3 separate regions of the Homo sapiens genome follow, and regions 2 and 3 are each linked to region 1. Evidence: fine-mapped expression QTL. A gene starts in region 1. Each other region holds a variant in brackets. All regions are shown on one strand. Distances are between the middles of the regions. Region 1 holds the start of RTL6 (retrotransposon Gag like 6). Region 2 has its middle 11 kb from the start of LINC01656. Region 3 has its middle 26 kb from the start of LINC01656.

Region 1 (10,288 bases):
CACATTCTTAATTACTATAGCTTTACAGATATGTTTTGAAGTTGTGAAGCGTGAACCCTCTTAGTTCTTTAAAATTGTTTTGGCTATTGTAAGTCCATTGAATTCTCATATGAACTTCTGAATCAGCACACTAGTTGCTGCAGAAAGGCAGCTGGAAATTTGATAGGGATCACATTGAGTCTGTAGATAAATTTGAGGAGTGTTGCCAGTGTTTGGCTAGAGTAGAGTGATCACTGTCTAAGTTTCCTCTCTTGCTAGGCTGCCCCTGCCCCCCACTTTGTTTATTTGTTTGTTTGTTTTTGTCTAGAGAGAGCAGGCTTTTATGGAGGGGGTGCTTTTTTTTTGTCTGCACCCATTGGCATTTCGGGGTTGCCAGCTTCTTCAGCTCCAAGTCTGGGTTATATGATGCAAAAGAAAACTCGAGGAACTCACCACAGTGTTATTCCTTAGGTCCTGAGGTGCCTTCTCTCCACCTACTGCATCTTGTGGTTTTTTTTTTTCAAAGCTGTTTTTCGATACGTTTTCTGCAAAGAATAGGCATGAGTGCATCTACTCCATCTCACTGGAAATGGAAATCAACTACATTTTCTTTTAAAAGGTACTTTTTCACAGGTACCTGATCTTGGTACAATATGGCTTTTTCTCCACAATCTGTTCTTTTCACAAATATTATTCCTTCCTTGTTCTCACTGAGCATCCCAAATATACTTACTTTAAAGTCTGTTTTTTTCAGACTCTTCTATTATTTTAATTTCCTCTGGAGTTAATTCACCTTACAGTTATTGATTTTTCTTGACTATTATTCTTAGCATAAGATGTCTTCATGGGCTTCAGAATTTTGAATCTCAGACTCATTTTGTGTTGAAAGACTTTGTCTCTCTTTCTCTCTTGGTACTCCCTTCCCCCATCTAGCAGTTTGGGGTGGGTCCACTTGATGTCTGGTCTGTGGTAAAGAAATATATATATATACACACACATATATGCATATTATATATACACACACATACACATATACATACATATATACATATATGTGTATAATATATATGTGTATATATATTTTGTTGGTGGTTTGGAATCCTGACCCTCTTGGTCTACTTGTTAAACCAGGGGACAAGAGATTAAGATGACTATATCTGTGTTCTCCTTTGACCCAGGGCCACACTTTCACATAAACTGTCACACCCCACCCCCATGAAATGACTGAATCCAATTTTTCAGACTTTTTTTCTGACACAGGGGTGACTCCTCTCTCCTCCATCCCCTGGATTCAAATAGGAAGCCTGGCTGTGTTCCCAGCCTTGGGTCCCTATTATGTCTCAGGTCCAGAGCCCGGCAGGCCCACGTCAATACTCAGAAGTTTGTGTTTCTGGACCATTGTGAAGTTTATCTTGTTTATCGATTGGAGCCCACTTATATCCTTTCAATATTTTCTTTGCATATTTTATTGTTCTGTGTTCACAGCCCAGACAGGCACCTCAGGGCATGAATCATAGCTTCATCTGGATGAGAAGCCAAATATTCTTCTCCTGTTTTTACTTTTAAAAGTCCATTAATTTTTATTTTGCTCTATTTTATGGGCTGCCATCTAATTTCCCCTTGGAAGTAAAGTGAAATACAGATAAATTATTTATTTCTTTAAATGTTTTATCATTTCTGAAATTGGGGTGCATCTTATATTCAATGCACCTGGGAATTTAAGATTCATGGTGTCAACCACACTTAGAATTGCAGCAGACACTTCACTAATGTGCCCAGTATCCAGGGGCCTAGACAGACAGAGAGACAGAGAGACAGATGGAGTGACTCCCACGAGTGGATGGGATTCCTCTGTGTGTTTAGAAGAACCTGGAGGGGTAGAAGGCTGCAGGCTCATTTCTGCTTTTGAAGTCATTGACCTCAGTCAAGGTTAACACAGCTCCTGCCCCCATCTGATTTAGAAGGTCTCATGGAAGAAGTTTAAGGACACACAGTCTTCTTTATTTCCCTCTTGCTTCATGCTCTAGAAGTTTTCACCTGGTCACAAAGGGTGCACACTTTGGCACACTGGGGTACAAGTATCCTTTCCAAGTTCTGACACTGTAGTTGTGGGACCAGCCCAAACTGGGCCTACCCTGTTGGTAACAAAATGTCAAGCTGCCTTTTAGGTAGAACAGAGCCCAAAACTGCAAGTCATGTAGCCTGGGCATGTGCCGTAGAAAAAACTTTGACCTCCAACAACACCCAGAACCAATGATTCGTCCTCTTAGAACCAAGAAGACTGGGACATGACCAGAAGTTGAAAACCAGAACTCATTCACAAGCAAAGGGGTCCATCAGCCTGGAAGGTCTGGGGCTAAAATCTACTTTAATATACATTACCACATATGGTCAAATTTGAAGCCCTCCAATCAGACCCTGGCAAGCCAGCATTGATAAATACTTTCTCTTGCCACCTGATCCCTTAAAACTTGCCCCATACCTCAAATCAGGGAGACGGATTTGAGCCCACCTCCTCTCTCCTTGCTGGTCAGTTTTGCAATAAAGCTTTTCTTTTCTCAAAAGCTGGTGCCATATGTATCGGCTTCCGTGTGCATCAGGCAGCAAGACCACTTGCTCAGTAACAACATCCTTATGCCCTAATTCCCTTGAGTGAAAACTGCAGGTCTGAGTGAATCCAGCTCTGTCCCAGGCCTGCCTAAAGAGTGCAGATGGTTCCCAGCTTCAGCCTCCTTGAATACTGTGTCCTCAAAAGACTGGCATACTGGGTATTGTTAACTGAAGAATGACGAGGTTCATAAACCTGGAAAGGAGAGTTTTATTTATCATAAAAGGTTGCACCCTGCAGAGTGGCCATTTGAATAGGCTGGGAAGTGTAGCCTCTGGCCAGAAGCCATAAACAGGCACTTCAAGGGTTGGAAGAGTAAGACAGGAATTTATGTTGATCAGGGTGGCCAAATATACATATTCAATAAGCTACAGGAGGAGTTATAAATATTTATGAGAAGAGAAATATGCACATGTGCAACTGAGCTTCATCCCCCTTCATGGGTAGCACCTACAAAAAATGGCAGTGTTAGCGTGATCTGAAGGTGGAGTTTTCAGCCCTCTAATGTCAAAAGGTGTATCAGAGGACACAAAAGCTTTCACTGCACATCCTCCACAGGCTGGCCAGAACCACTCCAGGGTTGGTGGTCTCTTACTAGGAAAGAATGCTGGTCAGTTGTTGTGTGCCACAAAAAGGGAGGGGCAGTGTCAGATGGTTGGTTGGTATCAATGTTGAAGTCTTTCAAAGAGGCTTGTTTCTGTTTAACTCTTAAGGAAAAAAGCCTAATGGTGGTTATCGGTTATGGAGCGGGGGCAGATAATGAAGTGTGTCCAACCTCCCATCCCATCATGGCCAGGAACTCGGCTTCCCAGGTTTCTCTGGGGTCCCCTGGCCAAGAGGGGGTCTGTTCAGTTGGTTGGGGGGGGGGGGCTTAAATTTTTATTTTTATTTCTCAGTATCTTTTCTCTCCAGCCATGCCAGCTTGAAACTGACCATGCAGAAGGATCACCTAGGTCAAGCTGGGAATCCAGACCCGGAATCAAACAGTTCTTACCCTTTGGCCAGTGTATTAGTCTGTTTTCACGCTGCTGATAAAGACATACCTGAGACTGGGCAATTTACAAAAGAAAGAGGTTTATTGGACTTACAGTTCTGTGTGGTGGGGAGGCTCACAATGACGGCAGAAGGTGAAAGGCACGGAGGAGCAAGTCAGGTCTTACATGGATGGCGGCAGGCAAAGAGAGAACTTGTGCAGGGAAACTTCCCTTTTTTTTTTTTTTAATTTTTTTTTGAGATGGACTTTTGCTCTGTTGCCCAGGCTGGAGTACAGTGGTGCAATGTCTGCTCACTGCAAGCTCCGCCTCCTGGGTTCACGCCATTCTCCTGGCTCAGCCTCCCAAGTAGCTGGGACTACAGGCGCCCACCACCACGCCTGGCTAATTTTTTGTATTTTTAGTAGAGACGGGGTTTCACCATGTTAGCCAGGATGGTCTCGATCTCCTGACCTCGTGATCCACCCGCCTTGGCCTCCCAAAGTGCTGGGAGTACAGACGTGAGCCATTGTGCCCGGCCGGAAACTTCCCTTTTTAAAACCATCAGATCTCTTGAGACTCACTCACTATCACAAGAAGAGTGCAGAAAAGACCTGCCCACATAATTCGATCACCTTCCACCAGGTTCCTCCCACGATGTGGGAATTGTGGGAGTTACGACTCAAGATGAGATTTGGGTGGAGACACAGCCAAACCATATCAGCCAGGTATCTTCACTCCTTGGTATTTACTCTGGGGAACCCAGCAGAGAAAAGGGTGGGGATTTATATACAAGTGTAGTTTATAAAACTTTAGCATGGTAAACAAGATAAGGATCTATCAAAAAGGGCATGGCTAAATACTTTGCGGTACAGGAGTTCCATGGACCACAGGCAATAACTGAAAATCATGCTTCTGAACTATCTTTAATAGGAAAATGCTCAAAATTCAATGTGCTGTTATGGTTACAAAATATTCATAAGGTAAAAAATATTTTGTAGAACATATCATAGAAAAATGACTGGATGGAAGTACAGAAATATTACTATCTCTACGTTACATATATATGTATTACTATTTGCTATCTTTAGGTGGAGGGAGTCTGAGTAGTATAAAGTTTTTTTTACTTCTCTTACATCAAGATTTGTTACATTAAATTTATATTCAAATCACAATAAGGGCCTGATGCAGTGGCTCACGCCTGTAATCCCAGAACTTTGGGAGGCCAAGGCAGGCGGATGCCCTGAGGTCAGGAGTTGGAGACTGGCCAGGCCAACAAGGTGAAACCCCGTCTCTACTAAAAATACAAAAATTAGCCGGGCATGGTAGCACGCGCCTGTAATCCCAGTTACTTGGGTGGCTGAGGCAGAAGAATCGCTTGAACCCGGGAGGCGGAGGTTGCAGTGACTCAGGATCGCGCCACTGCACTCCAGCCTAGGCGACAGAGCGAGACTCCGTCTCAAAAAAAAAAAAAAATAAGAAGAACAGTAAATCATCAAAAAAATAAACCCAATGACAACCACAGAAAGAGCCTTGCAAGCCCTCTTGGGAGGAATGACTGGGAGAACACCAGGTACCCGCCCTGATGAAGACGCCGCAGCAACTACAGTCTTCCCCGATTGGCAGCAGCCCGAGTTGGGGGGTGGGGGGGGGTGGGACTTTGTGCATCACTTCCGGGGGCGGGGCAGCGGTCGTCTCCGCACGCGCGGGAGCGGTCGGTATCCATGGCAACCAGCGGGGCCAGCCTAAGGCCCGCCCGCCACCGCCACCGCGCCGGCCCCGCCCGCACAAAGGCCGCGCGGTGACCCGCCCTCTGCCGCGACCCCGGCCCCGCCCCTGCCCCGGCCCCGGCCTGGCCCGGTCCCTGCACCTGCCGGAGGCCGCCCGCCGCCATCGCCAGCGCCGTCGCTTGGCTGCGCTGACCGGGAAGCAGTTCTCGGCGGTCCGCGCGGTGATTCATCGGCCTGGCCGCGTCCCCCGCGCGGGCCATCTTGGTCACGGCCGGCGGCGGACAGAGCCGCGGAGGAACCGCGAGACCCCAGGTACGCGTGCCCCCGGCCCCCTGCCCGGCCGGGCCCCGCCACTGTGGTGGCCCCCAGGCCCGCGGCCGCCAAGGAGCAGCCCCCTTTGTTCTCCCCCGGGCGGGCGCGGGGCGGGCGCCGCGGGGCTTTGTGCAGCCTCGCCACCCACGCGCGGGCCCTCCACGCCGCCCCTCACCCTCCTGCCCGCTAGTCGCAACTGAAACCTTGAAAACATCTTTTCTTAATCCTCCAGGGCCCAGAGCAGGTCCAGCCACCCGTCTGGCTCCGTAGTCCGCGAAGTCTGCAGTAAAGGAGCCGCGTGGGACCGGGGCCGAAGTCCCTAGGGCCTGGCACCGCGTGCCCCTCTCTCGGGCCCTCGGCTTGGGGGTCTCGCAGCGCCCTGCCGTCGTGCACCCCACACTGCCCCCATTTCTACAGGGGCCCACCTGGTCACCACACCCTCTTGGTCCACCCGCGGATCTCAGCGTGTGGCTGACCTCTGGCCAGCATGGTGCAGCCGCAGACGTCCAAAGCTGAAAGCCCAGCCTTGGCAGCGTCTCCGAATGCCCAGATGGATGACGTTATTGACACCCTGACCTCCCTGCGCCTCACCAACTCGGCGCTGAGGCGGGAGGCTTCCACCCTGCGGGCGGAGAAGGCCAATCTCACCAACATGCTGGAGAGCGTGATGGCAGAGCTGACCTTGTTACGCACCAGGGCGCGGATCCCGGGGGCTCTGCAGATCACCCCGCCCATCTCCTCAATTACTTCAAACGGGACTCGACCCATGACCACACCTCCAACCTCTCTGCCCGAGCCCTTTTCCGGGGACCCAGGCCGGTTGGCGGGGTTCCTGATGCAGATGGACAGATTCATGATCTTCCAGGCCTCCCGCTTCCCGGGTGAGGCCGAGCGTGTGGCCTTCCTTGTGTCTCGACTGACTGGGGAGGCGGAGAAGTGGGCTATCCCCCACATGCAACCTGACAGCCCCTTGCGCAACAACTATCAGGGGTTCCTGGCAGAGTTGCGGAGAACCTACAAGTCTCCGCTCCGGCATGCGCGGCGCGCCCAAATCAGGAAGACTTCTGCCTCTAATAGGGCTGTGCGAGAGAGGCAGATGCTCTGCCGCCAGCTGGCCTCTGCGGGCACGGGGCCTTGCCCAGTGCATCCAGCTTCCAACGGGACTAGTCCAGCGCCAGCCCTGCCTGCCCGAGCACGGAATCTTTAAGAATCCGCCAGCACTTGGTAGCGTCTGCAGCCACCCAGGTAGCATACGCTCTTTGCTGTGTAGAAGAAATGCCCATACGACAGCTTTGCCCCTGTTTGAAGACCTCCCTTCTTGCCTCTCCAGACGTGTTCCCCGAGGAGATCTTCCTTCCGTCCTTCCTGGCGCCCTGGTTGCCCACCTTGCCGTGCTTCCTCTTACGTGCTAGCTTTGTACCTATCGCTCACTGCATGCTCGCCTCCCTCTTGCTGGCATCCCGGCCTGTTTCAATGACTACCGCTCTGCTACTTAGGCACAGGGACTCCGCCGCACGCTGACGGACCACGAGGGCTGACCCCTTCCAGCCTGACTTGGTTCATGGAGGCTCCTACTCTGCCCTCTCCAAGCTCCCCTGGCGGCTCCCCACCTGGTTGCCCAGTTCCTATTGATGAGCTCTGGACAGAAAGATGCCCGTTTGGCCAGGCTGGTGGCTTGATGGGTGTACCTGGAGAGGGGGTCTGGCTTCCTGCCCAAGATGCCTCCCAGCCCTGCCAGGGCCCGGTGCAGCGGGCAGGGCCTCATCTGTGCTGTAGTGGTCGAGTGGTTGCTGCAAGGAGCGTAGTTCTGCCATGTCTGGGGGCCAGGTTCCACTCTGCACATGAATATGCAGTCTGGGAGGCCCCACTGCTCTCACTGGGAAGGACCAATGTTGCACCTCTGTTAATGCCTGACTTCAGCTGCTGGTGTTCTGATGGAGCCAGAGGCTTGGGGAATCTGGAACTTGCCTGCTAAATAAGGTCGTGGTGGACTCTCAGCCATTGGGCAGGTCTATCAGGCTGCAGGTTCCTACACACCCACGCCTGAGGGTCATAGCAGGCTAAGGGTGGATACCAGCGACTCCCTTTGCTGCCCAGGATCTCCATGGGCAGTGCCACAGCGGCTGATGCTCAGTCACTCCTGCTTCTACCCCCTGTCACTGATGGCGAGCCTTGCCCAGCTTGAGACCTGTTCCCATCTCTATTCAGGTGCCATGTGGCCTTCACTGCAGCCCTGCAGCCACCCACGCACCATCTGTGGGTCTCCAAAGGCACCTTGTAGCATGTACTCCCCGTGCCTGGGCAATCAGATGGGCTGCCTTTGTCCAAGGGAAAACAGACTCCCTTCGGGAAACATCCTTAAGCACTTAAGGCCGGGGGGGGTGTCTGCCTCTGGCAACCCAGCCAGGGTCTTGGTGGCATTTGTAAAAGCAAAGAGCTGTGGACTGCCGTGGTCCTAGTGTGGTGACAATGCAGCACTGGCATGCATGTCCTCCTTCTGAAGGACCTCATCCTTCCTCACAGGGGGATGACCAAGAAATCATTTTGTGGCTGAGTTTGGCCACGCCCTTTGGACTGTGCTGTTCCGCCATATTTCAATGCCAAATGAACCACATTGACATGACCTGGACCATAGGGCTTCCTATCCTGGGCTCAGCTGCCCCTGTCTGAAGGGTCTTGGCTTGATTGCAGAAGGACAACCTCCGCACCCACCTAAAGACATGTATATGTCTTGGGATCCCAGAGATTGGGTCCTTGGGCCTGGCTTCTTAAGAGTTTTGATGATGCTGGGAAAAGTGACTGCGATTCTGAAGAACCGCTGCCTTGCAAGGTCAAGGACATTCAGTGGTTGCTGGGGTCCGCAGACTACTGCCACCCACTCACCATCAACTCTGTTAGCCCAATTGCCCTGCTGAACAACTGCCTGAATACAGGCTTTAGGTTCCCCTGGACTCCAGCCAAGGCTGTTCAGGTGGGACCATGGTGCTCTTTAAGCGTGATCGGAGGGAAGACACACAGCAGGGCCACCATTCCATGAATGGGAGGTGTACAGATCACTTTCTCTTTGTGCTCAGTTCTGTTCTGTCTCCAGCAGCTATATTGGTAAGACTAGTACCTGCCAGGGAGAGGTGCCCCCAAGTGAAGGGGTACAGTGGCACCTGGGAAAAGGCACCTGGAAGGTTTCCATGTGGCCCAGCCCAGCATGGAAGCAGGGTGGGAACTCTGCTGTGTCGCCAGCGCTCACTCTACTCGAGTGGCTTTTTGAAAGCCCTACCATGTCTGTGTCAGGCCTGTGCTGCTTCACATCCTACAGCTGCCTAGGAAAGGCCGGCCACGCTCCCTGTCCACACACTCCCTGTCCACACACTCCCTGTCCACACACTCCCTGTCCACAACTGCAGCCGGGCCCTCTGCCTATGGGCACCCAATCCAAGCAGCTGCTCCACCTTTGTTTGGCATGGTGATTTGTGTTTTTTCTCTTGGTGCTTATGTGTGTGGGCTTGGGACGAGTGCTGGTATGCACTTAGGACCTTCTTGATAGCTCCCTGCACTTTGGAACACGGAGCAGATGAGAGAGGGTCGGGGCTTGCCCTCCACCTTGGACTTGGAAGAAGCCCACATTGGAGAGGTGAGGACCCCATGGTGGCTCTAGTGGAAGATACGTTAGTCTCCAGCTAAGGAGGATGAGGCGCAGCCCCAGAGGGAGACCTCAGTGATAGGGGATCAGGCTAAGAAAGTGGGGGAAGGGAGATGCTTTGTACATATTTTGGGGTTATAATTTCTCTAAATTTTAGGAGAACGGGTATTGATTGATAAAAGGGACAGGCAGTAGTGTTCAACAGTGCATGTGAAGGAAAGTTCTGTTTTCCATGGTTTTGACATTCTTTGGACTGTATTGTGACTGCTGTCTGGTCCACATGGTACCCCTTTGGTAAGTAGGCTTCAGTGCATACCAGGGTATCACTGGAGATGGGAGTTAGTGAAGGGGTGACTCCCTGGCCTAGTATAGTGTGACCCTGGGACTAACTTAATGTCCTAAAGCATTTTGGTGACTTCTAGGGAATAGCAAAGACCTATTTCATTGTCCCCAGGTAAGTATGTGATGAGCAATGAGGAGGAGTGGAAAACAAAACCCAGAAAGTGCGGCAGGACCAGCCTGACGCACACGCTCCTGTTGTCATGGCAGACAGCCGCCTTGGGTGGGCACCACCCTGGCAGTTCCAGCCTGTAGGGGAGTGAAGGGACATGGCTGAGCTGGGCATGTGCTGAGGTTGACTTAGGGAACAAGCCCTGGGATTGGACAAAAGGGCCCATGCTGCAGCCACTGACTGGGGGCAGAGCTCTGGGTGGAAGAGGGAAGAGATCCTAATGGAGGCGCCTCCATCTGCAACCACAGTTGTAAGGCTCATGGCACCTCTGCTTGGAAAGCACTGGTTTAGGGACTTAGAGAGGTAGGCACAAGGTGGGTCTCCTGGGTAAGGGAAGCAAGAGCAGACTGTTGGGCCAACAGGAGAAGCTCCCCAGAGTAGGGGAGAAGGTTGGGGTGTAGGGCCTTCCACGTGGAACAGACAGCCCCTGTGTCTCTGTCTCTTGGGGACCTGAGTTTGGGTGGGGTGGCAGTTGGCACAGCGCAGATGCGGTAGAGATGGGAGGAAACCCAGCTCCTCACTTCCGTGTGCCTCATGCCT
Region 2 (10,288 bases), 44 kb after region 1:
GCCTGGAAGGAGGGTCCAGGTCTTCTTTCACCACGCCCAGGCCACCTTACATGCTCTAATGTGGTGTCTTCTTCCATTGAAATAAAGGGACACAAAAAGGGATGCCTAGACTCAGGGCCAGTCCAGGTCCAAATGGGGAACAAGATTTGCCCTTGAGCGACCGGAATCTTGGGCAAGTGTGTTACATGCTGTATTTCTGACTCAGAGCATGAGGGAGAATAGAGGAACAAGAGGTGGGATGCAGCTTGTATGAAAGGAAACTTCTGAATGGGCACAGGGAAGGCTTCCTAAAGGAGGAGGTACCTGAATTGGGCTTGGAAGGATATTTAGGATGAAGATGGCAGATGCAGGCATGGAGGGACAGAGGTGAGTGGAGTTGGGAAAGAAGGCAGGGGCCAGTTTGGCCTTAGGGAAGGGTGCAGTGGATGGAGGGATGGGCAGGAAACAGTTGGGGAAAGTAGATTGGGAGCAAGCCTACTTGTAATATCTGAGAAATGACCTAGAAGAGGTATCTAGGGGCACTGAAAAAATAGGCCAACACAGGTGGTGCTCTTGGTAGGGCCTTGTATCATAGGGCTTGCAGATCCTAGCAGCAGGTGTGTGCCTGGGGCTGCCCACAGGGTGTAGCTCAGAGGCGGACATGTGACCCAAACTGGCCAATCAGGGTCTTCTCTGAGACACTCTCTCTCTCTCACTTCCTGGAGCAAGACAGTCTCTGAGCCTGTCAAGGGTGAGACGCCGTTGAACCAACTTCCCAGTCAGTGAAGATGAGAAGAAAAGCCAGGAAAGCCCACATGCCACATGGGGCACCTGGAAGACTGGCTTCGTGGGTGCAGAGGTAATGCCAGCTTCTGAGTTGTGGGCAAAAGCCAGAATGAGAGTGAGGTGCCTCTTGGGCTCGTGTGAAGGGAAATTTCTACAAGGTCACTGGGGAAGACTTCATAGAGGAGGTGGTGTCTGAACTGGGCCTGGAAGGATATGTAGGATGAAGATGGGCAGATGCAGGCATGGGGTCCACCAGCCCTCATCCCTTGGGAATAGAGCACCTGGCTGACGGTCCCTGGAGCTCATGCAGAAGCTGGAGCCTTTGGGGGCTTGGTAGGAAGACGTGAGCATGTGGGGCACACTGAACATGGAGAAGAGAAAATGCAGCAGCTTTGCTCAGAGAGGCTCTTTCCACCAGGGCCCGCGGGCCGATCGCCCAGGGCTTGGCAGAGCTGTGGCAGCACTCCTACGCCAGCTCAGGTGCAGGAGCAGGGCTGGGGGTGGAACCAGGAGAGTGAGGTCAAGGCTAGAGGGACGGTGCCTGGCCGTCCTCACACCTCAGCTGCCAGAGGTGGCCTGGGGACCCACTCCAAAGCCCCTGGGTGTAGCCCGCCTGGAGCAGAGCCCTGCAGCTGCCCTGGGCCCACATGGCTGGTTGCTAAGAGACCAGAGCCTGGAGGCCGACAGCCAAATTTCAGGCTGTGACTGAGTAAGGACCCTGGCTTTTGCCTGTGGCTCATGGAGTCTTTAGAAACTGAATTCTCAGACAGCCACCTGAGGTTGAGGGGAGCAGGGCCTAGAGAAATCCCACAGCTGGGAGATAGGGTAGCTCGAGCTCAGCCCTCCCATCCTGCCTTGGAGCCAGTCCAGATGGGCCCAGAGGAGGTGGCACAGGGAGATGCTCCCAGTGGGCACACTAGCTCCCCAGGGCTCCCTGAGCTGCAGGAGGGATGTCTCCGATGTCACCCGGACCGTGCTTATCCTCCTCCCACCATGCTTAACCTCCCTGTGTGCCAACACATGCACACACGTGCATGCACACACCCCACGCAGACACCAGACATACACACAGCACACTCGTCACTCACACGCCACACACCCATGCACACACACACGCCACACCACATACTACACGTGGTTGCAGTCACACCAGATATAGATGCATGTTCCAAGATATCACTTTTTCTCTCCTCCAGGCTTCCTTCTGCCTTTTTCTAGAAAATCTCTAAGGTCCTGCATTAAATGTCAGATCACGGGAAAGGCTGTCCCTGAACTCGTTCAGCCGGGGGACTCTGTGATCCCTTACAGAGCACGGCCTATGGTGCAATTGTTGGTTGAGGGACTGAATGCACCTTACACTGTAAACTCCTTCGGGTCAGGAGCTGAAGCTTCTTTGTGGATTATAGCCAGTACGTAACTCAAGACAGGCTTTCACCAAATGCTTATTAAATTAAGAGGCCAGGCATGGTGGCTCACGCCTGTAATCCTAGCACTTTGAGAGGCTGAGATGGGAGGATCACCTGAGGTCAGGATTTCAAGACCAGCCTGGCCAACATGGTAAAACCCCGTCTCTACTAAAAATACAAAAACTAGCCAGGCGTGGTGGCGGGCGCCTGTAATCCCAGCTACTCAGGAGGCTGAGGCAGGAGAATCACTTGAACGCAGGAGGCAGGGGTTGCAGTGAGCCGAGATTGTGGCACTTCACTCCACCCTGGGCGACAGAGCGAGACTCTGTCTCAAAAAAAAAAAAAAAAAAAAAAAAAAAGGAATGAAGAGTTGAATGAATGAGTGACAAAAAAACAGAACCAAGATTTGTTAAGTGCTGGGCCAGAGCCCTTTCTTCTGTCTCTCTCTTTTGAAAGGGTAAGGATATTTTACTCATTCTGCTTACGTTTAATGCATTTTGTTATTTTAGCTCAAACATAATTGCCTTTTCAGCATTTTTCTTCAAAATGATGATTTAGGGTCATCCAAATCTCAGTGCACATAGTGATAATATTTCTATATGATTTCCATTCAAAGTGAAGAATTTAAAATTTGGGGATGCTTTCAATAAGATCTAGTGAACAAAAGGAGCTTTTGCCCAAGATGATATCTTTTAAAATGTGCTCTATAAAGTTGCTTGGGGTCTAGGAGAACTAGATGATGGGGCTTTTCTAGGAACATCTGCGGACAGGCTTCCAGGCCCTTCCCAGAGTCTCTGCCCATCCAGGCCTTCTCCCCGGGTCCCTGAGGCCTCCACCACCTCCCCTCCAGCTTGCATCCCCCTCTACAACTATCTGAAGGGTCCCGACCAACATCTGCACCTCCCCTACCAGGCTTTACTCCCAGCCTTCTTTTTGAACAGGAAGGCATCTCGAAACTCAGTGTCCCAGGAATAAACTGTTCGTATGTACCCTCTGAGCCTCTGGAAAGAGGCTCATCTGAATCTTCAGGAGCAGGTTGAACAGCATCAGGAAGCAACAGATGTTTCAGCCCTGTCTAGGGCTCCATCATTCTAGGTGCAGAACATCTAGGCCCTCTCCAGCCAGGGTTTTTTCCTGGACTGAGAGCTGATTATTTTATTTTATTTTATTATTTTATTTTTTTGAGGCAGAGTCTCACTCTGTTGCCCAGTCTGGAGTGCAATGGTGCGATCTCGGCTCACTGCAGCCTCTGCCTCCCTGGTTCAAGTGATACTCCTGCCTCAGCCTCCTGAGTAGCTGGGATTACAGGCACCTGCCACCACGCCTGGCTAATTTTTTTGTATTTTTAGTAGAGACGGGGTTTCACCATGTTGGTCAGGCTGGTCTCGAACTCCTGACTTCAGGTGATCTGCCCATCTTGGTCTCCCAAAGTGCTGGGATTACAGGCATGAGCCACTGTGCCTGGACTGCTTATTTCTAAACCTAAATTTAAGCTTTCATTCTCTCCCTCCATTTCACTCTCTGCCCTGAGTGTGGGTCATGGTCGTCTTAAGATTAAAAACCAATGATCGAGTGGATGAGTCAAAAATGCTGGACTGATGTCTTGATTTGACTTCCCACTCTGCCACCAGTGGTAAGTCAGGTTTCTCATCTGAGCCTCTGTTTGCTCACCCTGTAAAGTGGGAAAATCCTATGACCCTATTTTTGTAAAGATAAGTCAAGAAAATGAACTGCTATTAGTGGAGGGCTTCATGACCATGAGAACTACAGAACCTGAAGAAAAGCATCCAAATAGTCCGGGTATTCATGCACGGTAAACCCCTGGAGGCACGTTCCTCTGTGACCGTGCATGCGTGTGCACACATACGAAGGTGACTGGCTCTCCCGCGACTCACAGAGGTGACTCCGGCAGAAACACAACGCCAGCACAGCAGGTCCTGGGGTGTGATGGTACCTCCTCCTGGGTGTCAAGTGGAGACCAGAAGTGCAGAGGACCAACCTCCTAAAGGCAGAAGAAAATGGCAAGTGGCCAATCGTTATATGTTGAGGCTACCATTGCATGTTCTGGGTTTACCACCTCTGTTTACCAGCCCGGTAGCCCTGGGCCTATCACTTAATATTCTTGTGCCACAGTTTCTTATCTTCAAAATCTGGATAATAA[T/C]GGTAGCCACCTGCTCAGGATGTTTTCAGTTGCAAAGAACAGGAAACCACAAGAACCCAAATGGGCTTTTAAAGTAAATGTCAAGATGACATTCGTTTGCTAAACCGAAAGGCTCAGGTGAAGTGTGACTCAGCCGTTCAATGATGTAACAGAATATCTACTTTTGTTTTTTGCTTTCCCTCTACTTTCCTTTCTATGACATCAGATTCATCCTAAAGCTGGCTCCCTTTAGAGTCCAAAGAGGTCTGCCAGTGGCTCCCAGGCCTGCATGCCTCCTCATTAACATCCTTTGAGAGAGACAGAGTTTCGTTGTCTCATGCAAATATCACTACAGGTCCAAGTCATTCCTCAGAGGCTGGTATTACTCTTATCGGACCAATCTCAGTCCACCCCCAAATTGGAACCAATTACTAGGCCAGGGGATGGAATACACTGACTGGTTCAGATCAGATCACATGCTCCAGCCCTGGGACTGAGAGTAGAGCCAGTTTACTTGGACATCGAAACGGACATAGGGGACGGTGGGAAGGGAGAATAATGCTAGGAGGTGACGATTATTTATTATAGTCCTCACAGCCCTTGGCTACCCAAGGTTCATACAGATCCTTCCTCTTCCCATGAACATTCAAAGTTGCCTACATCCATATAAACACAAAGAAGACAACCAAAATCTCTTCCAGCCTTCCAGGGACTGCCTTCATCTCCCAGTTCAAGATCTCATTCCAGGAATATTTACAGTCCTTCCATCAAATCTGGATGGAAGTTATCATAGTACAGGGAAAGAATAATAAAGAGAAATTAGCTCACAGGACCGAGATGTCCAGCAGGAGAGAGGCTCCTGGTGTGGTTTGGTTTAGAGGTTCTCAATGGCATTGGTGCTCCAGATGTTCCTCTGTAATTCTCTCATATCAATCCTTCACCAAGCAGGGGCTTTTCCCCAGTGGGGTTTCCTTATAGCTGCCAACAGCTCCCAGAGTTACTTGGGCCCTTGTCCCTGTACCATGGTAGCAAGAAGGCAGTCAAGTTTTGAGTCATTGCAAATCGGCCAGCATAGACTTTTGAGGTTGCAAGCAACAGAAATGCAACCCTAGCTTAAAAGAAAAGGGAAGTTATTTGTGGTCCGTGTGCCTGGGATGGGGAGGACACTGGATGTCCCATAGCAAGGGTGACAGGGCTCAGGCCACTTCAGCAAGGTTCTAAGGGGCAGCCCCATTGCTGTCGTGGATGGGCAGCACCCTCTGCCTTCCCCTGCCCTCCCTGAGCTGTGGCTCCTCAGTAAGGAGTTGGACACACAAACCCTCAGGTCCCGGAATCGAGGGGACCCTGAAGGGCATCCACACACCCGAGTATCATGGTACAGCAACACACGTGCCCCCATGAAGGGACAGTCTAGACTCCCCAGCCTCCCATCCAAGGCCAGCAGAAGCGCTTTTGCCAACATGCAGCCGGCTCCGCATGTTACCTTCTCAACCCAATTAAAGGTGGCTCTAGGGAGCGAGCTCGGAGCTGATAAATGTGCAGAAAGCAAACTGGACGCAACCGGAAGGCAAAATCTTTCCCATCACATAGACCAACTGTGCTCTGGTGGTCACATGGGATCTTTCCCATCACATGGACCCAATTAGCCGAGCCTGTGCTGTGGTGGTCACATGGGGAGCTCACAGGCTGTGGGAATCCGGAGCTTGCAGTGCAGTGATGCTGTGGTCCCCAGGCATGGCCACTTGCCCTGACATAGCCTGAGTCTCCTTCACAGAGGTTTGGGTTGTGATTTTAATATAGAGGAATTGTCCTGGGCCCACATGATAATACCTGCCCTATTAAAATGCTTTTTGTCCCTGACACCTGGATGAGGCCCGAGGACAGGTGTGTGGGCAGGAAAAGTTCAGAAAGGAGCTGAGATTGAGCGAGGCCCTACTGCATACCAGGACTGCCATTCCCTGCCTCACCGCCATCGCCACAGTGCGGCCCTGTTATCCCCACATTCGTTTTCCTACGTGTGTGTTGGGGGAGGGATTTGGACTCTAAACGCCCCCTCCCCTAAATCTGGAATTGGAAATTGCAGACATGGGGTGGGAAGGTGGGGGCCCAATGAATAACTGATGGATGAATCAATGCCATTTTGAAACCTGCATTTCAACTTGACAATATATTTGCATCGATCAGGTTGATTTCAACGATGCTGCAGGAACAAACTGTCAAAGTCCCAGTGGCTTCAGTCAAACATGTGTTTCTGCCCAAGCAAAGTCCACGACAGGTGCAGGTGATTCCCCAGAGCCACAGTCTCCCAGGGATGGCTCAGCTGCCCCAGCTGACTGGAGCACCAACATCCCGGAGCAGCAAGTCGGGAGTGCGGGGCCACCCTGTCCGTTACAGTGGAAAGGGGTAGGCAGAGTGGTCCTTAATGCTTCTCCCTGGAGGTGACTCATCACTTCTGCAGACAGAGCAGGTCATAGGGTCACCCCTGATTTCAAAGGAGTGTGCACCTGGAGTGAGAGGAGAACCAGAAGTCCTGGTTCTTTCTTCCCCAGTGCTGGTGGGCTCTCTTCTCCAGCATCACCTAAAAACTTGTTTGTCTTGGGCTTGGCCTCTATCCTAGAACCTTCTGCTTCTCTGAGGCAGCCCCTCTGTCTGGTCTGTGTGGATGAGTGATTTCATAATATCTGATAAGCTCTTATCTGAGCCCTGATGAATTGGAATGGGGCAGACAAGGAAGAGTAGGTCCGGCTGTTCTGGGGCATAACAGTATCGGCCGTGGGCACTGCAGGGTGGACAGGGGCACCCTTCTCTCTGTGACTCCTTCAACCCAACCAGTGGTGGGAAGGACCATATATCCTGTGCCAGAGACTTGTTCCAGGTGCAAGTGTGCAGCAGGCACCAGGGAGCTGCCCCCGACCCACCCTCTCAACTCATTCACCTGGCAAATCGTGCCTTCTCAACCCAATTAAAGGCAGCTTCAGGGAGAGAGCTTGCAGCTGACAAATTTGTAGAAAGCAAACCGGACAACAACCGGAAAGCAAAATCTTTCCCATCACACAGACCCACATTGAGGCTCAGCCCCCAAGACCTCTCTTGACCCCCTGTACACCCCTACGGAGAGGCCTCTCCATTTTTCTTGATGAGGAAACAAAGCTCAGAGGAAAGTCACTTACAGAGCCAGAAGGAACAGAGCTAGGAGGCTGGAATAGGCCATTTGCATTGCTATAAAGGAATGTGAATACCCAAGACTGGGTGATTTCTGAAGAAAGGTTTATTTGGCTCACAGTCCTGTAGGCTGTACAAGCAGCATGGAGCCGGCATCTGCTTCTGGGGAGGCCTCAGGAAACTTACAATCATGGCGGAAGGCAAAGCAGGAGCCGGCGAATCACATGGAGAGAGTGAGCAATAGAGAGGGAGGTCCCACTCATTTAAACAACCAGACCTGTGTGAACTCAGAGCAAGAACTCACTCATTACTGCGAGGAAGGCACCAGGCCATTCACGAGAGGCCCACCCCTGTGCCCTACACACCTCCCACCAGGCCCCACCTCCAACACTGGGGATCACATTCCAACATGAGATTTGAAGGGGACACACATCAAAACCATATCAGAGGCCAACCCCCCAGCTTGACTCTGGGTCCTGAGTGCCCCCCACTCCCCTTGGCTTGGCTTCCTGCTTGGTGGAATGGAAGAATTGTAAGAGTTAAAGAAAGAGGAGGCCAGGCGTGGTGGCTCACGCCTGTAATCCCAGCACTTTGGGAGGCCAAGGCAGGTGGATCATGAGGTCAGGAGTTCAAGACCAGCCTGGCCAATATGGTGAAATGCCATCTTTACTAAAAATACAAAAAATTAGCTGGGTGTGGTGGCAGGTGCCTATAGTTCCAGCTATTCAGGAGGCTGAGGCAGAAGAATCACTTGAACCCGGGAGGTGGAGGTTGCAGTGAGCTGAGATCATGCCACTGCACTCTAGCATGGGCGACAGAGTGAGAAGCAAGCAAGCAAGAAAGAAAGAAGGAAAGAAAGAAGGAAAGAAGGAAAGAAGGAAGGAAGGAAAGAAGGAAGGAAGGAAGGAAGGGATGTCATTTTTGGTTTATGGTCATGCTGACCTTGGCCGTTAGGCTGATGCCCTTTGGATTTAGGCAGTTTTTGATCAAGGTGCTCGTCCAAGATGGCAATGCTCCTACTCTGTCAAGAATGACCTCCCCAGCCTGAATCTTGTGTGTGCCAGTTATGAGTCACCTATTGCTGTATAACAAATCACCCCTAAGCTTAAATCAATAGCATCCATGGTCTCGCTGTTTCTGGGGTCAGGCATCTGGGGGCTCAGAAGGGTTTCCTGGCTCAGGGTCTCCCACAGGTTGCCGGACTGTGGTGCACACAGAGCGCTTGGCAAACATGCCGTGAAGGCATGAACAAGCAGCCTGCAGGCTGGGGGCAGTAGGTGCAGAGGGTACAGGCGAGGCCTTTCAGGTGCACAGTGTCTGGCATAGATCAGACACAAAAATATATTGAATGAATGAATGAATGAACAATCAGGACAGATCTCCATTTTCATATTACTACTTCGTCCTGGGCAAGTTATTTCACCTCTTTGGGACTCAGTTTTCTCATCAGTAAAATGGGGATAATCATGCCTGTCTCATAAGAATCCATGTTTAAATAGCAAGTCTAGAAGAGTGTCCAGCATATAACAGGTACCCAGGATGTCTCTTTGGTTTAATCCACCCGAAGAGGTTGACTTCCTCCTTTTGATTCAGTGATTGGCTTGGCGGCGACTTTCCAGAATGGAATTCCTTATAAGGGGCCTTCCCAGATTGGAATTGCACGGCGATCTCGAAGCTTGCAGACATGGAGCGGTTGCCACCAGGGCATGGCTCCTGTCATCCCGCAGCCTGGGAAAGGCCACATAGAGGCTGTCTCTTTGGCCTGGTGGCAACTGTGACTCACCGTCACCATCCCGACCCCACCCTCAGAGCAGGTGGCCTTCCCTCCAGGACTTGGGAGGGGCCGCTGGACAGGATGGCATGGACAGTCCCAGCTAAGGCTGCTCAGACTGGACTCTGAGACCCTGCACACTGATCAACCTGTGGGTGAGCCTGGTGGATCCTGTCCCATCTAGTCTGTCGCTGGCTGAGCCGAGGCTTCACATGTGCCATGCCATGCCCTTCCTGAGCTTCAGTTTCCTGATGTGCGATGTGTGCAGGGGATGAAACAGACCAGGCAGTCCCCCTGGGACCTCATAGCTCTTGGTGACCATTCCACTCATGCTGGTGGCGGCCGGTTCCACGGTCCGGATGCTACCCCCAGTTTATGGGCTCTTTCCTGGTCTTTTTTGCTCTGTCTGCTGCCCTGGCTGGTGCATTCTGACTCTGTAGATGGCCGGGCTGAGGGTGACACCAGGCCCCAGTGTGCTGAGGCTATGAACACCCAGCCTTGCTTGCGTCCTGGGTTTGGGATGTAAAGGATTCCCAGTCTGCTAAAGCCACACCCTCCACAGCCACCCCAAAGCCGAGCCTTTGCTTTCAGGATTCCTGTAATCCTCATGCAGCATGGGCAGCCCTGGCACCTGTGCCCGCATGCTCAGGGAGGAGGGATGGCCCCACAGCACCGGGGGTTCTTCCAGATTCAACAATGGACGGACCCCACACAATGCCCTAAAAGGCAGGGTTATTGGTGGCAAGGACCTGACATTTCCTGGGCGCCTTCTCCAAGCCAGGCTCTGGGCCAGGCACTGGGCAGGGATGTGGGCCCATCCAGCCCTGCCTTGAGCACGGCCTGGTCCCTCAGGGGAGACAGACATGCAGAGAAAGAGCCTCCAGCGTGGGGGGGCTACATGCACCCATGTAGCAGATCTGTTCTGCAGGCGACCCTGGGGTTTCAAAGGAAGCATGGTTGATTCGGATCATGCTCCAGGAACCCTGAAAGGAGGGAGCATTTAATAGACAAAGATGCCGAAGCTCAGAGAATGAATCAGCAGTT
Region 3 (10,288 bases), 29 kb after region 1:
TTTTTGCTCCTGTAACAGAATACCACAGACTGGGTAATTTGTAAAGAACAGAAATTTATTTCTCACAGTTCTGGAGGCTAGAAAGTCCAAGATCCAGGTGCCGGCAGGATTGATATCTGGTGAGGGCTACCGTCGGTTTCCAAAATGGCATCTTGTTGCAGCATCCTCCAGAGGAGAGGAACCCTGTGGCCTCACATGGCAGAAGAGACAGAAGGCAAGAGAGGGTGCTAATCCCAATCATGAGCATAGAACCCTTCTGTCTTAATCACCTCCCAAAGGCTGCACCTTTTAATTTACTGTTGCACTGGGCGTGAGTTTTGGAGAGGACACCATCATTCAAACCATAACATTCTGTCCTAGCCTCCAAAATTCATGTTATTTGCACAAACAAAATACATGTATTCCATCCCAACAGCCTCAAAGATTCTTAGCTCATTCTAGCATCAACTTTAATGTCTAAGTCCAAAGTCTCATGTAAATATCATCTAACTCAGATACAGATGGGACTCAAGGTACCATTCATCCGTAGGCAAATTCCTCTACAGCTGTGAGACTGAAATCAAACAAGTGATGTGCTTCCAAGATACAATGGTGGGAGAAGTATAGGATAGGTACTGCCATTCCAAAAGAGAGAAATAGGCAAGAAGAAAAGGGTAACAAGTTTCAAGTAAATCCAAAACCCAACAGGAAAACAACATTAAACCTTAGAGCTTGAGCTGGGTGCAGTGGTGTGTGCCTGCAGTCTCAGCTACTTGGAGAGGTTAAGGTGGGAGGAATGCTTGAATCTAGGAATCCAAGGCCACCCTGGGCAACACAGTGAGACCCTGTCTCTAAAAAAAAAAAAAAAATCACTTAAAGTTTTGAGAATAATCTTCTTTGACTCCATGTCCTGCCTTCTAGACACTTAGGTGGGAGTTGGTCCTTTAACGTTTCCAGGGATCCCTTCCCTAATGGCTTTGCTGGGTGGTCCACACAGCAGCTCTCATGGGTTGGAGTTTGGTGACTGCCCCTCTCCCAGGCTGGGATCATACTCCAATGGCTCCACAGTTCTGAGGTCTCGAGAACAGCCCCACTCCCGTGGCCCCACTGGACATTCCCCTGGTGCCCCTTTCTTCTGGCCTAGTAGGGGCTCTCCGTGGTGGCCCTGACTTCACTAGGCATTGCCCTAGTGGGGACTCTGCAGTGGTCCTGCCCCTGCAGCATTTCTCTGCCTGGGCCCCGAGGCTCTCTGAGATATCCTTTGAAATCTAGGTTGAGGTAGCCATGGATCCACAGCTCATACACTCTCTGTGCATGAGCTCTGCCTGCAAAGTTAGCACCAAGTGGATACTGCCAAGGCTTATTGCTTATGCCTTCTAGAGTGGCAGCCTGAGCCACATCTGGGTCCACTTGGGCTATGGCTGGGGTGGCCAAGGAGCACTGCACAAAAATGTAGGGAGCATTTTTGAGACTTGAGGCAGCAGTGGGCAGCGAGCTCTGACGTCCCGTGAGTATCCTGAAACCCTCCCTTTGAACTCTGCTACCCTCAAGAATGTGGCCCTCTGGGCCTGTGAGACTTGTAGCAGATCTCTGAAATCTTGAGGACGGAAGATCTCTGAAATGCCATCAATTGACTCTGAAATGGGCCATTTTTCCATTGCTTTGATGGATAGTATCTGCCTCCCTTCTATCCATGCTAATCTCTTTATCCAAGTGTAGCTTAGCCATACCCTTAATTTTCTCCCCTAAACATGCGGTTTCATCCTTCACATGGCCAGGCTGAGATTTTCCACATCTTTATGTTCTGCTTCCCTTTTGATAATGAATCCTGTCTTTAACTCGTTTCTCTTTTCTTGTATTTTATAAGCAGTTAAGAGAAGCCACGCAGCCATGCTTAGAGTTTTTCTTTGCCAAATATCCTAGTTCATCACTTTTGAATTCTGCTTTCACAGAGCAGCAGGGCACAGATAAAATTCAGACAACTTTTCTGCCACTTTGTAACAAAGATGGCCTTTCCTCCAGTTTCCAATAAGAAATTCCTCATTTCTGTCCAAGACCTTATCAGAATGGCCTTTCCTGTTCATGTTTCTACCAACATTCTGTGCTTGACCTACTCAGATAATCTCTACAGCTCTTTTCTGGGAAGACCCAGCCCTCACCAGAATTTCCCTTAATGAAATACAGGGTTTTTCCAGCACTCACTTCAAAACTGTTTCAGCCTCTATCCATTGCCCAGTTCTAAAGCCACATTCACATTTTCAGGTATGTATATATATATACATATATAGCAATACTCTACTCCTGGTACCCATTTCTGTCTTAGTCTGTTTGTGCTAGTACAACAGAATACCATAGACTGGGTAATTTATAAAGACCAGAAATTTATTTCTCACAGTTCTGGAGGCCAGAAGGTCCAAGATCAAGGTGTCAGCAGGATTGGTGTCTGGTGAGGGCTGCTCTCTGCTTCCAAAATGGCGTCTTGTTGTAGCATCCTTTAGTGGGGAGGAATACTGTGGCCTCCCACGGCAGAAGAGACAGAAGGCAAGAGAGCCCTCCCTCCAGCCTTGAGCCCTTTTACAAAGGTACCACTTCCACTCACCCCTCAAAGGCCACACCTCTTAACACTGCTGTATCATCGGGGATTTGGTTTCAACACGAATTTTGGAGGGACCCCATCATTAAAACTACAGCAATGAGGATGTAAAGAAATTAGAACCCTCGTACATTGCTGCTGGGAATGTGAAGTGACGCTGCCACTTTGAAAAACAGTCTGGTGGATCTGCAAATGGTTAAACATGGACTTAGTGTATGACCCGGTAATTCCACTTCTGGGTATATACCCAAGAGAATTGAAAGCATATGTCCACCTAAAAACTTCTACACAGATGTTTATAGCAGCATTATTCATAAAAGACAACAAATGGAAAAAACATAAACATCCATCAATAGTGAATAAACAAAAGGGGTTATATTTCTGCAGTGCAACATTATTCACCAATAAAAAGGAATGAAGTGCCGAAATATGCTATAATATGGGCGCTCTTGAAAACATTCTGCACAGTGAAGCCAGACACAAAAGACTGTGTGTTTTATTACCCCACTTATATGAAATGTTAAATTAGGCCCTTTACAGACACAGAAAGTGAATTGGTGTTTGCTAGGGGCAAGGAGGAGGGTGAGGAGAAGTTGGGAGGTGGGTCATGGGGAGTGGCTGCTAATGGGTACAAGGTGTCTTTTGGGGATGATAAAAATGCTCTAAATTTAACTATGGTAATGGTTGCAGAACTTTGCAAATAACTTAAAAACATTGAATTGTACACTTTAAACAGCGGAACTATATGGTATGCAAATTATATTTCGATAAAGTTGTTTAAAAAACCGAAATGAGAACAAACTGTATATACATTCTTATGGAGCTTAAAATATATGGAGTATATTATATTAAAATATATGGAACATATAGAAACACAAGAGCGTATAACTTGGAAAGGGGGTAATGGAATTAGACAGATCGTAGATCCTTGCATTTCCTGGGGAAGTGGAAAAGTAGCAATTAATATTTCATGCTAACAAGAAAAGGAAGGGTATTGAAATTTCTAGGTAAGCCGCAATAGAATTGTCAAACTAAGACAGGACAAAAATGGAATAATAAAATATATAATCAATCCCAAAGGGCAAGAACAGAGTGAAAAATAACATAGAAGAGGTTAGATAGATATACAAAGTAGGATTGAAAAAGGGAAATTTATCAGCAATTAGACTGAAACTACATGGGCAGTTTCTCCAGTTGAAAGACAAAGCTTGTCAGGATGGGTTTTCAAAACTCTACATGCTGTTTTCAGGAGATACATGTAAAACTTAAGAATGCGGAAAAGTGAAAAGTAAAAGGATGGAAAAACACATACCCTGCAAACACTAACCAGAACAAAGTCAGTCTAGCTTTACGTCTGGTAGGCAAAATAGCACGAAAGGAAAAGTCATTGGATAGCATAAGCCCTTTATAATGATAAAGGTTATGTTCATCAGAAAAATATAGCAATTGTATATTTGTATGTACCCAATAACAAAGCCTCAAGATAGCTAAAGAAAAATGACAGAACCACAAGGAGCAGCAGACAAATTCACAGTCTTAGTGCAAGGTCTCCGTAATTGGTATAATAAGCTGACACAAAATCAGTATGCATACGGAAGATTTGAAATACACCACCAACAGACTTGGCCTAATTGGCATATAGAGAAATTTGCATCCAACTGCAGAATGTACATTATTTTCAAGCACACACGAAAGATTATTTTAAAATTGACCTCATTTTTGGCCATAAAACAATCTTAATACACTTTAAAGGACTGAAATCATACATAAAAATCTGACACAAGATAGCAACTATGAATTAAGAAATACTCATCTAAGTAATTCACAGGTCAAGAAAAATCATCATGCAAATTAGAAAATGTTTTGAATGAAATGAAAATAAAAGCAAGGCACATCAAAACATATGGGAGGCAGCTAAGCAGCACTTAGAAAGTTACAGCCATAAATATTTACTTTAGAAAATAATCAAGGCTGGGAATCAATGGGCTAAGCAATCATCTTAAGGAGTTAAAAAAAATAATAATCAAACCAGGGCTAGGAACAGTGGCTTATGCCTGTATTCCCAGCACTTTGGGATCCCGAGGTGGGAGGATAGCTTGAGTTCAGGAATTTGAGACCAACCTGGGCAACACAGTGAGACCCCGTCTCTCCAAAATAATAATAAAAATAATAATTAGCTGGGCATGGTGGTGCACACCTGTACTCCCATCCGCTTAGGAGGATGAAGTGGGAGGATCACTTGAGCCTGGGAGATTGAGGCTGCTGTGAGCCATGGTCACGCTGTTGCACTCCAGCCCAGACAACATGATGCCTCAAAAATAAAACCAGGCCTGGTGCTGTGGCTCACACCTGTAATCCCAGCAGTTTGGGAGGCCGAGGTGGGCAGATGACGAGGTCAAGAGATCGAGACCATCCTGGCCAACATGGTGGAATCCCGTCTCTACTAAAAATACAAAAATTAGCTGGGCATGGTGGCACCTACCTGTAGTCCCAGCTACTCAGGAGGCTGAGGCAGGAGAATCGCTTGAACC[C/A]GGGAGGAGGAGGTTGCAGTGAGCTGAGATTGTGCCACTGCACTCCAGCCTGGTGACAGAGTGAGACTCCATCTCAAAAATAAAAAAATAAAAAATAATAATACAACCATAAAACCAGAAAAATAGGCCAGGCGTGGTGGCTCACACCTGTAATCCCAGCACTTTGGGAGGCTGAGGCAGGCAGATGACAAGGTCAGGAGATTGAGACCATCCTGGCCAACATTGTGAAACCCCGACTCTACTAAAATACAAAAAATTAGCCAGGCATGGTGGCACACGCCTGTAGTCCCAGCTACTTGGGAGGCTGAGGCAGGGAAATTGCTTGAACCCGGGAGGCAGAGGTTGCAGTGAGCGGAGATCGCACCGTTGCACTCCGGCCTGGCTACAGAGCAAGACTCCGTCTCAAAAACAAACAAACAAACAAACAAACACCAAATAGAAAGGGGAAAATAATAAAGATGAGCTTAGAAATTAATGAAATAGAAAAAAGTAAGAGAAAATTAATGAAATCAGCAATTAATTCTTTGAAAACACTTAAGAGACAAGGAGTCACTTGTTTGAGTCTCTTTCCCTAGAGACTCTCAGCACAAATGATGATCTCATGCATGTATCTGTGATAGCCAGATAGAGTCAAGTGCTTAGGACAAGTATTCCAGGCCAGAGGAAGGTGGAGGGAGGTTTAACACTGGAAGAGAAGTCTGTGATGGAAGCAGAGCCTGGAGGGTTTATAATGGGTTCTGCAACCATCACCATAGTTAATTGGCATTTATAATACCAATTATAAATAATTGGTATTAATTCTTTCTTAAATGTTTGGAAGTGAAGCCATCTGGACCAAGGCTCGTCTTTGTGGGATTTTTTTTTAAATTACCAATTTAATCTCTTTATTTATTTGCTCAGATTTTCTATTTTTCCTTGAGTCAGTTTTGGTAGTTTGTGTCTTTCTAAGAAATTATCCATTTCATCTAAGTCATCTAATTTATTGGCATATGATTGTTCATAGTATTTAAATGGCATCTTTGAAGATAAGAGAAGTGGCTACGCACAAGCTAAGGAGTATAGGTGGCCTCTGGAAGCTGTGAAAAGCAAAGAAATGGGTGCATTTCTAGAGCCTCTGGAGGGAGCATGGCCCCGCTGACACCCTGATTCAGCCCAGTGTAACCCATTTTGGTCTTCTGGCCTCCAGATTGTAAAATAATAAATATGTGTTGTTTTAAGCCACCAAGTTGGTGATAAATGGTTGTAGCAGCTATAGGAAACTAAATAGAGGCTATCAGGAAAAACTGTAGCAATTTAATTGAAACTTTACATAAAATGGATAAACTTCTAGAAAAACACATGCTCCAAAATTGGCACAAGAAAAAGAAAATCTGGATAATCTTATAACCATTGACTTTTAACTAAAAACCTTCCCACAAAGAAAACTCCAAGTCCAGATGGCTTCACCAGAGAATCCTGCCCTGCAAATAACACTTCTAATACACAACCTCTTCTAGAGAAAGAAAAAAAGGGAAGATTACCTGATCCATTTTAGGAGGCCAATTTAATTTGATATGAAAAAGAGAAGAGGGTAGACAACACAAGAAAGAAAAATTACAGGCAACCTCACGCAAAACACAGATGCAAAAATTCTAAACAAAACATTAGAAAAGTGACCCACCTACAAGGTAGATTTAACATTGTAAACTCAAATGTTACTTGCCACATTAACAGTTGAAGGAGAAAAAGTAAATGTTCATTTCGATAGATGCAGAAAAAACATTTGACAAAGCCCAAACTCCATTTACGAAAAAAGAAACTCTTAGAAAACTAGAAATATAGGCTGAGCACAGTGGTTCACGCCTGTAATCCCAGCACTTTGGGAGGCCGAGACTTTGGGAGGCTGAGGCAAGTGGGTGACCTGAAGTCAGGAGTTAGAGACCAGCCTGGCCAACAGGCAAAACTCCGTCTGTATTAAAAATACAAAAATTAGCTGGGCTTGGGGGCGCGTGCTTATATTCCCAGCTAGTCAGGAGGCTGAGGCACGAGAATCGCTTGAACTGGAGAGGCAGAGGTTGCAGGGAGCCACGATCATGCCACTGCCCTCCAGTCTGGGTGACAGAGTGAGACCCTGTCTCAAAATGATAAAAAAATAAAGAAAAAGAAAAAAAAAGAAAAAATTTAATCTGATAAATGGTAGCTACAAAAACTATAGAAGACATGTATTTATTGGTAAAATGCTGAAAACCTTCCTTTTAAAATTGGCAGCTAGATAAAGATACCTGCTCCCCCACTTCTCTTCAGCATTGGACTGAAAATCAAGCCTTACTGTAAGGCAATACAAAGAAATGAGGTCATAAGGATTGGAAATGAGGAAACAGATTCATCATTATTTACAGAGAATTTGCTCATGCATGTAGCAAGTCTAGAGATTCTACAGGTACATTATTGGAATTCATTAGAGAGTCTAGTAAGTCAATATACAAAAGTGAGTTGTATTTTTGTATACTAGAAACAAACAGCAAATGGAAATTTAAAAGATGCCATTTAAATACTATGAACAATCATATGCCAGTAAATTCGATGACTTAGATGAAATGGATAATTTCTTAGAAAGACACAAACTACCAAAACTGACTCAAGGAGAAATAGAAAATCTGAACAGATAAATAAAGAGATTAAATTAGTAACTTTTTTTTTTTTTTTTAAAAGAAAACAACTTTCCACAAAGAAGAGCATTGGTCCAAATTGCTTCACTGCCAAACATTTAAGAAAGAATTAATATCAATTATTTATGAGTTATTCCAGAAAAATCAAAGAAGAGGGAAAACTTTCACAACTCATTCTATGAGGCTACTATTTTCCTGATGCCAAAACCAGACAAAGACATTACAAAACTACAGACTAATATCTTTTATGAATATAGATACAAAAAGTCTGCAATAAAATACTAGCAAATAGAATCCAACAAGGATTGTCCACCATGACCATTTGGAATTTATCCCTATAGGCAAGGTTGATTTAACACCCAGAAACAATTAGTATAATACACCATATCAGTACAGCAGTAAACCACATGACCATCTCAATAGATGCAGAAAAAGCATTTGACAGGCCTGGCGTGGTGGTTCACGTGTGTAATCGCAGCAATTTGGGAGGCCGAGGCGGGCGGATCATGAGGTCAGGAGATCGAGATCATCCTGGGTAACACGGTGAAACCCCATCTCTACCAAAAATACAAAAAATTAGCCGGGCGTGGTGGCGGGCGCCTGTAGTCCAGCTACTCGGGAGGCTGAGGCAGGAGAATGGCGTGAACCTGGGAGGCGGAGGTTGCAGTGAGCCGAGATCGTGCCACTGCACTCCAGCCTGGGTGACAGAGAGAGACTCCGTCTCAAAAAAAAAAAAAAAGCTTTTGACAAAATTCAACACTCTTTCATGATAAAAATACTCAGACTAGGATTAGAGTTCACCCTCACTGCTTCTGTTCAACATTGTACTGGGAGTTCTAGCCAGGACAGTTAGGCAATAAAAGAGGAATCTGCATTGGAAAGGAAAAGGTAAAATTATTTTTATTTGCAGATTACATAACCTTTTGTGCAGAAAATCCTAAGCAATTCACACACACGAAAAGTAGAACTAAGAAATGAGTTTAGAAAGTTTCAGAACACAAGATCAATATGCAAAAATATATTATATTTTTATACAATAGCAATGAGCAATCTGAAATGAAATTAAGAAAATTTACTTACAATAGCACTAAAAGGAACAAAATACTTACAGATACACTTAACAAAGAAGTAAAAAATATATATTCTGAAAGCTATAAAACATTGTTGAAAGAAATTAAAGAAAATCTAAATAAATGGAAACATATCCCATGTTCATGGATCAGAGTAATTAATATTGTTAATATAATTAATTTATATAATCACAATAATTTTTATTATTGTTTATATTTGCAATATTTATTATTAATAAATTAATAATTAATTTATATTAATAATTAATAATTAATTTAATTTATTATTTATATTTATATCTATATTTTTATATAATAATTTATATTGTTTTATACTCCCAAAATGATCTATAAATTCATTGTAATCACTGCCAAAATCCAGGCTTGCTTCTTTGCACAAATTGACAATCTGACCCAATAATTTATATAGACACTAAGGGATCCAGGATATGTAAAACACTCTTGGAAATAAAGAGCAGAGTTAGAGGATTCACACTTCCTTATTTCAAAATTTACTATAAAGCTACAGTACTCAAAGCAGTGTGGTATTGACATAAGAATAGACATATATATCAATGAAATAGAATTGAGAATCCAGAAATGAATCTTCACATTTATAGTCAATTGATTTTTGACAAAGATGTTAAGACCATTAAATGGGGAAAATAGTCTTTTCAACAAATGGTGCTAAGACACCTGACTATCTACATGCAAGGGAGTGAAGCTGGACCACTATTTCATGCCATATAAAAAATTAACTCAAAATGGGTCAGACCTAAGAGCTAAAACTATAAGTCTCTTAGAAGGAAATCTGGGGGTAAATCTTTGGTTTCTTAAATATTCAGGTAGAAGGCTGGACTCAACTCCAGAAGTGGGGCTTAGACTCTGGACCAGATTGAAGACTAGCTGAACCAAGGAAGAGGCAAAAGCACTCTTAAGTCTCCATAAGACACACCCACCAATGCCATGTCAGCTTACTATTGCCATGGCAAGACTGGAAGTTACTGCCCCTTTCTATGTCAATGATCCAGAAGTTACCATCCTTTTCCTAGAAATTTCTGCATAACCTGACCCTTAATTTGCATGTAATTAAAAGTGGGTATAACTATGACTGCAGAACTACACCTGAGCTGCTACTCTGGGCACATTGCCTATGGGGTGGTCCTGCTCCGCAGGGAGTAGTACCTCTGCTGCTGCCATACACTGCCACTTCAATAAGTGTTGATGTCTAACATCACTGGCTCACAGTTGAATTCTTTCTTAGGTGAAGTCAAGAACCCTCCCAGGCTAAGTCCCAATTTTAGAGCTTGCCTGCCCTGCATCACCAGCAGTTTGAGAGGCCAAGGTGGGAGGATCGCTTGAGGCTAGGTGTTCGAGACCAGCCTGGGCAACACAGAAAGACCGTACAGCTACCAAAAAAAAAAGTTATATATATAATATTTTTTAAAGAATAATGCTTCTATGTGG

Evidence for each region.
Region 2: its variant is fine-mapped to the expression of RTL6 in whole blood (TOPMed, PIP above 0.99). The same link has a PIP of 0.9 or more in T cells and blood mononuclear cells.
Region 3: its variant is fine-mapped to the expression of RTL6 in whole blood (TOPMed, PIP above 0.99).

Annotation. Positions count from the first base shown.
Region 1 is chr22:44,493,356-44,503,643 of GRCh38, reverse strand. RTL6 (retrotransposon Gag like 6) reads left to right here and starts at 5,411. Exons shown (of 2, transcript NM_032287.3): 1 at 5,411-5,600; 2 at 5,833-10,288. The coding sequence starts at 6,088. The coding sequence ends at 6,807. RefSeq lists silencers at 5,201-5,260, 5,351-5,480 and enhancers at 6,740-7,517, 7,518-8,295.
Region 2 is chr22:44,449,623-44,459,910 of GRCh38, reverse strand. No RefSeq gene overlaps it. Among named protein-coding and RNA genes, the nearest start is that of LINC01656, 11 kb to the right of the region's middle. RefSeq lists enhancers at 4,175-4,324, 10,257-10,288, 9,865-10,288. The variant T/C (reference allele first, on the strand shown) is at 4,333.
Region 3 is chr22:44,464,578-44,474,865 of GRCh38, reverse strand. No RefSeq gene overlaps it. Among named protein-coding and RNA genes, the nearest start is that of LINC01656, 26 kb to the right of the region's middle. The variant C/A (reference allele first, on the strand shown) is at 5,104.